2 separate regions of the Homo sapiens genome follow, and region 2 is reported to be linked to region 1. The links are microRNA targets in miRTarBase. Many come from high-throughput screens and were not tested one by one. Region 1 holds a microRNA gene; the other region holds the end of a gene's coding sequence.

Region 1 (4,504 bases):
GAACATCTCTATAACTGTAAAATCCACAAGTTGTTCTCCTAAACCACATTCATGGCTTCATGCCTTCTTGCCTATCCCACCTGCTCTGACTGACACTGTCCCTTTTCAATGCCTGCCCAACTCATCCTCATCCTCTGTGACTTGGTCTAAGAATCACCTGCACACATTCTTTCCATACACTGCTTCCCTTCACACTGGTGAATACCCGCTTTCCCCACTCCTCCTTCCTCAACATCCTCTGCACTGTACCTCAGAATTATATAGAAATACCAACTTCTATTTAAGTTAATAAGAGGAGGTCTCTGTCACCTACTAATCACACAACTACAAAAAGAACAAGTGTTATTTGATAAGTATTTATTAAATTCAACTGTATCATATCAGAATCTCTTTATTTGCAGATGCACAGTTTAAACACAGTTATATTTCCCAGAATGAGAAGGGGGGAAAGACTTCAAATGTATATTAAGTGAATGGAAAATCACTGAATAAAGACAAAATCTCATTGAATAAGAAAGTCCCAAAGAAAGATTCATTACATTGTAGGATACAGTAAATTCCTCTTCAAAGAACCAATATGTTAGTATATTGAGCTTCCCTGTTCTTTGTTTTCCATTTGAAAGTTTAACTTCCTCGTTCTTTACATCTCCTTGTCCCTAGCTTTAGTAAACAACCCCCTCCTAGCCTCTATCACCTGCTCTGTCCTTAGTCATCCTTAGTCACCTGCTCCCTCCTTAGTCACCTGCTCTGTCCTTAGTCATCCTTAGTCACCTGCTCCCTCCTTAGTCACCTGCTCTGTCCTTAGTCATCCTTGGTCACCTGCTCTGTAACCGTCCTTCCCACCAAAGCTTCTCACCCCGCCACTCCAGCTCATACCCCTGCTGTCTTTAAAATAGCCAGTTGGAATTATCTTAGACTGTGCGGTCCAACCCTACCCAATAGGGGAAAAACAAGCAGTAGGGACTAGCTGCATTAATAGTAAGATCCCCTTCTCCTCCCTTGTCTGGTGTGCTCTTGCCATTGCTCCATCCGTGAGAGGCACCCTTTTATAGAAGTAAATTGCCTTGCTGAGCAAACTTTTGCCTGAGTGCTATATTCACTTGGCAGCACCGAGCATTTACTTCCAACAACATCAAGTCTAAAATGTTGTTCTCTAAAACCTCATCTGTACTACTCTAGAAAATTTTATTTTTCCAAATTGATCATGAATTTCCTAGTCTGCTTAATGTAATCAGCTAAACCTATGATAACTCAGATTTTACAAATTTAGTAGTTCTTCCTTTAAAATGACTAAAGACATTAGCAATATGAGACCTCTTACTGATTTACTGCTAAGAAGCTTAAAGGTTTTTCTCCTACATATCCAGTCATGGTGATGCATTAAAACAGAAAAAATAATTCATAAAAATTTAAAGCAATAGCCATTGTTACTCTAAAACAATGCTATTTTATAAATCTAAAATACCAATAGACTTTTGCCATTTCATATTGCATTTACGTAATTTCAAATAAAATTTGTTTACTCAAATGTGACTCCTTAAAAATTCTCTCAAACTATATTCTGAGATACTACAATCCATAAACACCCTCTAATTATATTTAATTAACATATTCAGCATAGAGATAAATTGCTTTGAAATTAATTCAGTTATGCAATTGTTCTTTCTAATCAGCCAAACTTTCTCTGTATTTATTTGCACTACTAGTAAAGTTCAGTGTTTATGTTATTGGACATCTTTATGACTATAATAACACACATCATCAAGGAAGTAAAAGGAGAGTTTGATCATCAACCAAAGTCCTTTATTACTACACAGTTCCTCAAAGCAGACAAAAATAAAATAAATTACAGAGCATAACATGTAGTTTGACCTTCAAAGATACTTTACAAAATACTGTTTCTTAAAACTCTCATTAGTACTTATAACCCTATGTTTTAATTCACCTAGGTTGAAATCTGGGTAAATGAACCTATTTGCTATTAAAATTTTACTTAAAACATGGTATCTCTTGATGGTTATAAATGGCTATGAAAAAAATTGAGAAGCTAAAATCACATTTATTCTCTTATTTCAATTTTTTATCCCAAATTTGCACGTTTGCTACCATACTACAAATGTTCTGTTTGATTTTTTTTGGCTAAAATTATATTTAAAATTGATATTATCTAATTTAAATACAAACCAAATGAGAACAATAGTTATCACCTCATGAAATATTATACAGCTATAAACAGGCAAATCATTAATGATTCAGTCAGTAGATTATGTATGCTCTGAAATGATTGTCTTTATTTCTATAAGAGGGTAGACTGAAGACTGAGCCCACAGTATTCAGTCTCCTCTCTTATAGAAATAAGGATAGCCATCCATGGTTCCCCCAGGAACTTCAAGGATCTTAAACTTTGCCTTTGTAGCTCTGGCAAAGTTTAAGATCCTTGATGTTCCTGGAGGACTGGTGGATGAAGTTTCAAGAAATGGATCAACTGTAACACCTAATATTAAGAAAAAGCTGTACCATACCAGGAAAACACTACATTTGTATAAAATTCTCACTTCACAATACCTGATAAACTTATCAGTAGTATCTAACTTCTAAGTAGTGAATTTACCTTCTTACAGTAGTTAACTGTACATGTGCTTGTGTTCTACTTAAGAAGAGTAGAAAGGGCTTCCATGAGTATGCCATCATTAGAGCCTACAACAAAGAATGTAGGTAGAAGATCTTGCCAACTATTTTTCTCTTCTTTCGGAGGTATAAATAGAAGTCTAAAAACACTTTTAGAATTTGGAAAAAAGAAAAAAAAAAGGATTTCTAGGATTTCTAGCAATACTTATCTGGGAAACATTTTTAATTAGTTGTTAAAATTGGGCTCAAAAATATCAATTAACTGAAGCTATTTTTCCCTACAGAAAAACTATAGCACAAATAGAGAAACATCAAAGAATATATATGTATCATAAGTATGCACACACAGAAAGGGAGAAAGAAATGGAGACAGAGAGAGAGACAGACAAAGAGAGAGAGAACGACAGAGACAGAGAGACAGAGAGAAAGTAGTCCCCCAAAATATGGAAGTTTCTAAGGTCTATTCTGAACTTCTTCATCAGGAGGTATATGATACAGCTGATGTATAGGTACATTTATATAATGTTAATAGCAAAAAACAAACATGAAATAAAGGCAGGTATTGATATCTAGATGCACTCTCTTAGTTGCATCCTAGAAAATACATACAAGGCTATTCAAAACTTCCTTTAAAAAGCCATATTAATCTTTGCAATTTAGCACAAAATATACTGAAAATCTTAATTTCTATATAAGTTAACTTACTTATTCATATTATGTGTGCAAATTAGGGCAGCCTTTTCAAAACTATTTTTAAGTATACTACACTGAAAGACAAAACTAATTTCAAATTCGCCATAACTATACCATTTCAATGTAAACAGAAAATTGACACTTACTATCCCACACAATATTTGAGTCAATTAACTGTCCTCTGATGACAATCATGCATGGTAAGCATCATTAGAGTGGCTGAAAACATTTCTTAGGCATAAAACAAACAAAAAACTCGCAAATAACAAGGGCCTGAAAACAGTATAAGCATTGTTTTCTAAGTCTTACTCTGGAACAATGACTTTTAGCCATTCTCTTTAAAAATAAAGGCCTGATTTCAATTTCATATCCCCAGTATTTGAAAGTGAAGCGATTTCTCCATTCAAAGTTATACCATTTTTTCCTCTTCCAATCTGAGTATATTTTATGCTCTTATGGGAAAAAGCTTAAGTTTCCTGATCTCTAAATGCATTAAGGCAAACAATATTAGATCCACCAGCCTCTAATACGTTTAGGGACCAGGGCTCATGGCAGTTATGCAGTTAGCTTCTGTAACTATCTTTGAATTCATTATTATACTGAAATAAAATAACTTTTTTTATTCTTTAGAGGTTTTAGAAAACAAATTGCAATATCGCGAATTGAATCACAAATACATCACTCTGCTAAGTAAAATTTAAATTAAAATCACCTACCATTCATCAATGGAAATAAGAATTTTAAGGATTTCTAATTTAAAATGAAAGGTAAAATTTGACATTTTATATTAAAATTACCCTAATATATCCTCAAACAGCCACTTGTTCAAGGATACCCATAGTGTAAGTTTCAACCCAACTACTATATCCCATATACACGTGCTTTTTACAGATTCACTATTAATTATAATATAAAGTCTAAAAATAAAAGCTATGACTAGGTATTTTAGCAAAAGACTTTATCCTTTAAACAATTTATCTATACTTATTCTGTTTTCTCTAATAAGTTGATCTGTTCACCCGAAAAAGAGTTAAGTTAAACATCCATGACTGTAGCACAGTACAATGAACCATAAAAATATGTAGTATATTTTACTAATTGACATGTCACACTAAAAAGTAAATATTTCACAATGATCATAATGAATCAACAATGAACAGGCTCATAAATTATAGACAGAAAC
Region 2 (4,504 bases), not on the chromosome of region 1:
TTCAACTTTCTCCCTTGCTTCTCTGTGATTTAATATATAACTTTAAGACACCAAAAAAATAGGGGCAAATAAGAAACAGCTTTTATATTTTTGCCAACTACACTAAAACACAGTGGCTTCTTTAATACATTCACACAGGATGCTAATTAGTAAAATTAAATACCTGCCTATGAATATCAGAAAAGTAATTTGAAAAGAAAGAGCTTGGAACAAGGCAAATGGGAGGGGAGGAAAAGCTGGTCTCAGAACCCATTGTGCCATACCTGACTTCAACATGTGATATTCAAACGAATGTTCACACGCCTTACATCAAAGAAATGAAACAAAAATATTCAGCTATGTTATTATACAAAATTTTTTTTACATAAAACATCATAAATCTGGAACAGATTTACTATATCTGAATTCTAAAAAGTTGCCTATAGAATGGTGCTGGGATTCTGTTCTCTGCTTGCTTTTAGGCAGTGCTGTTGCTTAAAAGTTGACACCAGGCACAATATTTTAAAACAAAATCAACGAGCAAGGAGCAGTAGGTGGATCTGAGCCTTTCCCAGATGTCAGGCCTGAGGATGCTGCAATATTCCCCATCAAAATGTGTAAAGCTATGAGGTGGATACTGATGCCTGAGAGAGTGGGTGACTTGACATGCACTTGTATGACTGTAATAATGGCAAACAGTACAGTTTTCTCTTCCTCAAACAATACTGTTTTAGTAAATTTTAAGAACATTCCGGTTCTTAGACAAATATCGAAATAATATTTAACAGTTTTAAAAAAACATGTATCACATTCTAAAAATGCCCAGATTTTCTTTTATCTTCTGATTAAAATATGCAGCAGCCCAATGGCATAAAGCTTAACTCATTCTGATAACTAGAAAGTATATGAGCATATATATTTTACTTTCATTGAATATATATATATATATGTCATTCACCTCTTCCTTTTGGCTTCTCACTGCCAAAGTTCCAAATGGCATGCGGTTTAACAAGACAATGCTGAGGAAAGCAGCATTTCTGATCATCTGAATTGGCAGCTCAAAACAGATACCACTCCTTTTACAAAGGGAACAAAGGGTGAAGGGTATGTGAAATTTGGGCAGTGGGCTAAAGGGAAACCGTGCACATGAAATTTGGGTTACCATGCCCCAAGTGTGTACCACCCAAAACATAACACAATTACCTACTTCAACAGAGCTACTACCAACATTTACTAAAACCACATTAAAAATACACAGGATAATGAATGGTTTGAAAGAGCGCATTTGAAGCAGAGAGAACCCAATTACACACCTTCCTGCAACAGAGTGCCTCGATCATACACAAAATAAACTTAAGCTGTTTACAATGTTTCCCATTTTTTTTTATTTTTTCCCTCTACATTTAACTATTAAAAAAGTTTTTTATTAATAAATGGGCTCCTCTGTGGTTCATATACAATCATAAGTGAACTTTAAATTCCATTTTATACAAACATCTCAAAAAATATTGGGAGTGAAGTATGGTAGGAAATATTGCTCACATTGCTAATTAACATGCGTATATGAAAGGAGGAAAATGTTTTGTTAGTGCATATACCTCCAGAGCAGAAAACCCACCCAAAACAAAAGATCTAAAATAAAACATACAGTAGCTGATTACAAAAAAAGGTAATGTCCACAAAATTAAGTTTTTCATGCTATTCTACTTTCCAGTACTATGCTTCAGGTAATCAATTTGCATGGCTAGATGTTGGATACTTGAGGTATATAAGAAGGGAAACCTGCATGTTGAGGAAAATCTGTCATCTTAAGGGTTGTTTCTTTTTGTTTGTTTATCCTGGTACTTTAACATTTTTAAAAGATATTTTATTTACATCAAAATTCACTGAACTACAATGACATTCCAATTATAATAGATGACAAACAACGCCTCTATCACTAGGCACTTTTAAAAGGGAGTTCAGGCTTTACAGAACCCTTCTGATGCAATCCCATGTATGATATGACATCATCCCACCACCCTCGTCCCACTAAAATTACCCTCTGGGGAAATATTACCTTATATAGCCTGATTAATTTACTATGGAAGAAATTAGCATAAAATGACCAAAGTAAATGCATCATTTAAGACTAATAAAACAGCCGAAGATGTCAGGTTTGAAAGAGGAGACAAATTGTGTATATTTAAAACTAATTAAATAATTTAAATTTGACCTATACTTTATATATTAGTGAGACACAAATATAGGCTATTGTCTTTTAAAATTTCATTCACATAATGGAAAATTTCTTGTTTATTAAAAATATCACATTTTGAGACTAGAAACAGTAAAGTGCATGAAAAGTTTAAAATATAAATTTCAGAAAACTCTTATAGCAGCAAAAAAGCAGAATAAAGAAAAACTTAAAAACACAGACACAACCTTTTCCTGTTACTGTGCCATAATTAACATCAAGTAGCCAACCAATTTTTCCCCAGAAAACAGTATTCTGTTCACTGCCTCTTGAGTCACAGATTTTCAACTGGCCCCTCCTAGGCAAAAAAAAGATTCCAACATACCTAAAGGCATCAACAATTGGGAATAAACCAGTAGCTTCTTAATTCAACCCTGACAGACAACTGAAACAAAGATTAAAAGCATATGATGGCCATTTGGCAGCTAGAGTCAGGAAAATGACCCAACGTTTTCAACTACTGCCCCAAATTTGTTCTCTCTCCCAAATCCTTTGCACTGTCATCTCAAGAAACCAACAGCCACATAATCTATGTTGGAAACACATAAAATATCTGTATGATTTTCCCCATCTGAAACTTTGATCAAGGCCTTTTTATTCAGCAGACTTTTTTCTTCTTTTAACATTTGACTATAATGGCAAAAATGACATAGGTCATATAACATCTGTTTTCCTGGCACAACCAGACAGAAGGTTGAATTGGAATAAGGAAAAATTCATTCCGTGGGCATCCTAAACATACCACATTCTATTTTCAAGGTATGTGGCAATACAGATTACTTACTTTTTCTCTATAAATAAACTTGAGAGACAGGCTTAGAATTAATACTTCCAATAAGGTTATATATAAAGGACAAAAAAACCAAAGTGATTCCTCAAAAAAACTCCAAACCAGCATTTGGCCAACAAATTGTCATGTGGTGTTACATGCTGGATTATAAAAGTATACTGTGCAACCATCTTTAATTTTTCAAATTTTCTTACCATGTATAGAGGCTATATCATAGTTTATGGACTGAACAAGTAAATTTAAGTACTCTGTTAATGTGCAAATGACTTTGGAATCCAAAAGTCAGTTATAAAGGAAAAATTCAAGGTTTTCCCTGGAAGGCATATCATCATTCAGTTTAAAATACTGTATTTATAGTTTTTAAAAATTGCCTTTTATAAAATGGTTGGCTCACTGAAACCATTCAAAAGAAAGTATTTGTTTTGGAAAAACAAATACACTGTTATTGGGCCTCAAATTGGTAATTTATCAATTTTGAATGCTGGCTGTTAATACAATATAAAGAAGGTCCAATTTAAAAACATGTTAAATTAAAATTTTGTAAAGAGAGTAATACTTTGGTTCCAGCCCTACTGCCAAATGATACCAATATGCACAAAAATGTACAAAGTCTTACAGCAAACACATAATGAAAGAAACCTGAAGAAGCAGCTTAAGGATGGCCATACTTCACTCCTACATACTTTGATTTACAACTGTACAGGTCCATAGCAACAGATCCCCGTCTTGGCGGGGCAGTACTCCACTACCTCCGATTAGGCAAGTGAACACCATTGACAAGAGGCAGGAGTGGAGGGTGGAGTTCAAGTTGTGTTAACAGTGAGAAGTGGTCTGAAGGGATGTGAGGGTGTGGACACCCAGTGATGTTGTTCTCAACCAGCCATTGAGGATCTAAAGGCCCCAGGACACCAAGCACGTTCATATGAGTCTTGGAATAGAAAATGTAGTCAATCACGCCCTGGAAAGAGATTGGGAATAGGAAAAAAAGAAAAATTCAAGATATATAAAGAACAATCCATAATTTATAAAAACCAAAAAACTGACTACCCTTTCTTCTGGTACCTGTTGTCTTGATAGTGGGTCAAATAAGGCTCAAATATTCAATGGGTATTACATGAAATAAAGGTGGCTCAATAGGGAAACACAGCATGCTATTGGAATTATAAATCCTTCCATTTGTGTGTAAGTGATAATTTGAGAAGCTAAACACATTAAATTATGTCTAGTCATCTTTAGAATTGGCCTGCTTGGTTTAGTGAAATCCAACATATCAGTATAAATATAATGGAGCCTGTACTAATCCTATTGGCTATAATAAGTAGAAAATAAGAATATTTATATGAGCACATACATAGTTAACGGTATTATTTTCAATTATTTGCATATCAAGATATCCAAACACACCTGACTGAAGCTATAGTAAACCATGTTTATGGATTTGCTAATCCTAGTCTAGCTTTCCCAGATTTGCTACATACATACAAAACACTACACAGTTA

Evidence for each region. Region 1 holds the annotated microRNA hsa-miR-561-3p (CAAAGUUUAAGAUCCUUGAAGU, at 2,386-2,407, opposite strand). A microRNA usually pairs through its seed, bases 2 to 8, with sites in the 3' UTR of a target mRNA and lowers its output. Matches are read on the target gene's strand: a 7mer-m8 pairs with bases 2 to 8, a 7mer-A1 pairs with bases 2 to 7 and ends in A, and an 8mer does both.
Region 2: miRTarBase lists CNOT6L as a target of hsa-miR-561-3p. Seed matches in the 3' UTR shown: 7mer-m8 at 2,322-2,328 and 7mer-m8 at 1,395-1,401.

What each region holds. Positions count from the first base shown.
Region 1 is chr2:188,295,455-188,299,958 of GRCh38, reverse strand. MIR561 (microRNA 561) reads right to left here and starts at 2,467; the gene lies at 2,371-2,467. The region is part of intron 1 of GULP1 (GULP PTB domain containing engulfment adaptor 1); the gene reads right to left. RefSeq lists enhancers at 723-1,017, 148-1,347.
Region 2 is chr4:77,716,681-77,721,184 of GRCh38, forward strand. It overlaps CNOT6L (CCR4-NOT transcription complex subunit 6 like), which reads right to left. Exons shown (of 12, transcript NM_144571.3): 12 at 1-3,963. The coding sequence ends at 3,751. Among named protein-coding and RNA genes, the nearest start is that of CNOT6L, 100 kb to the right of the region's middle.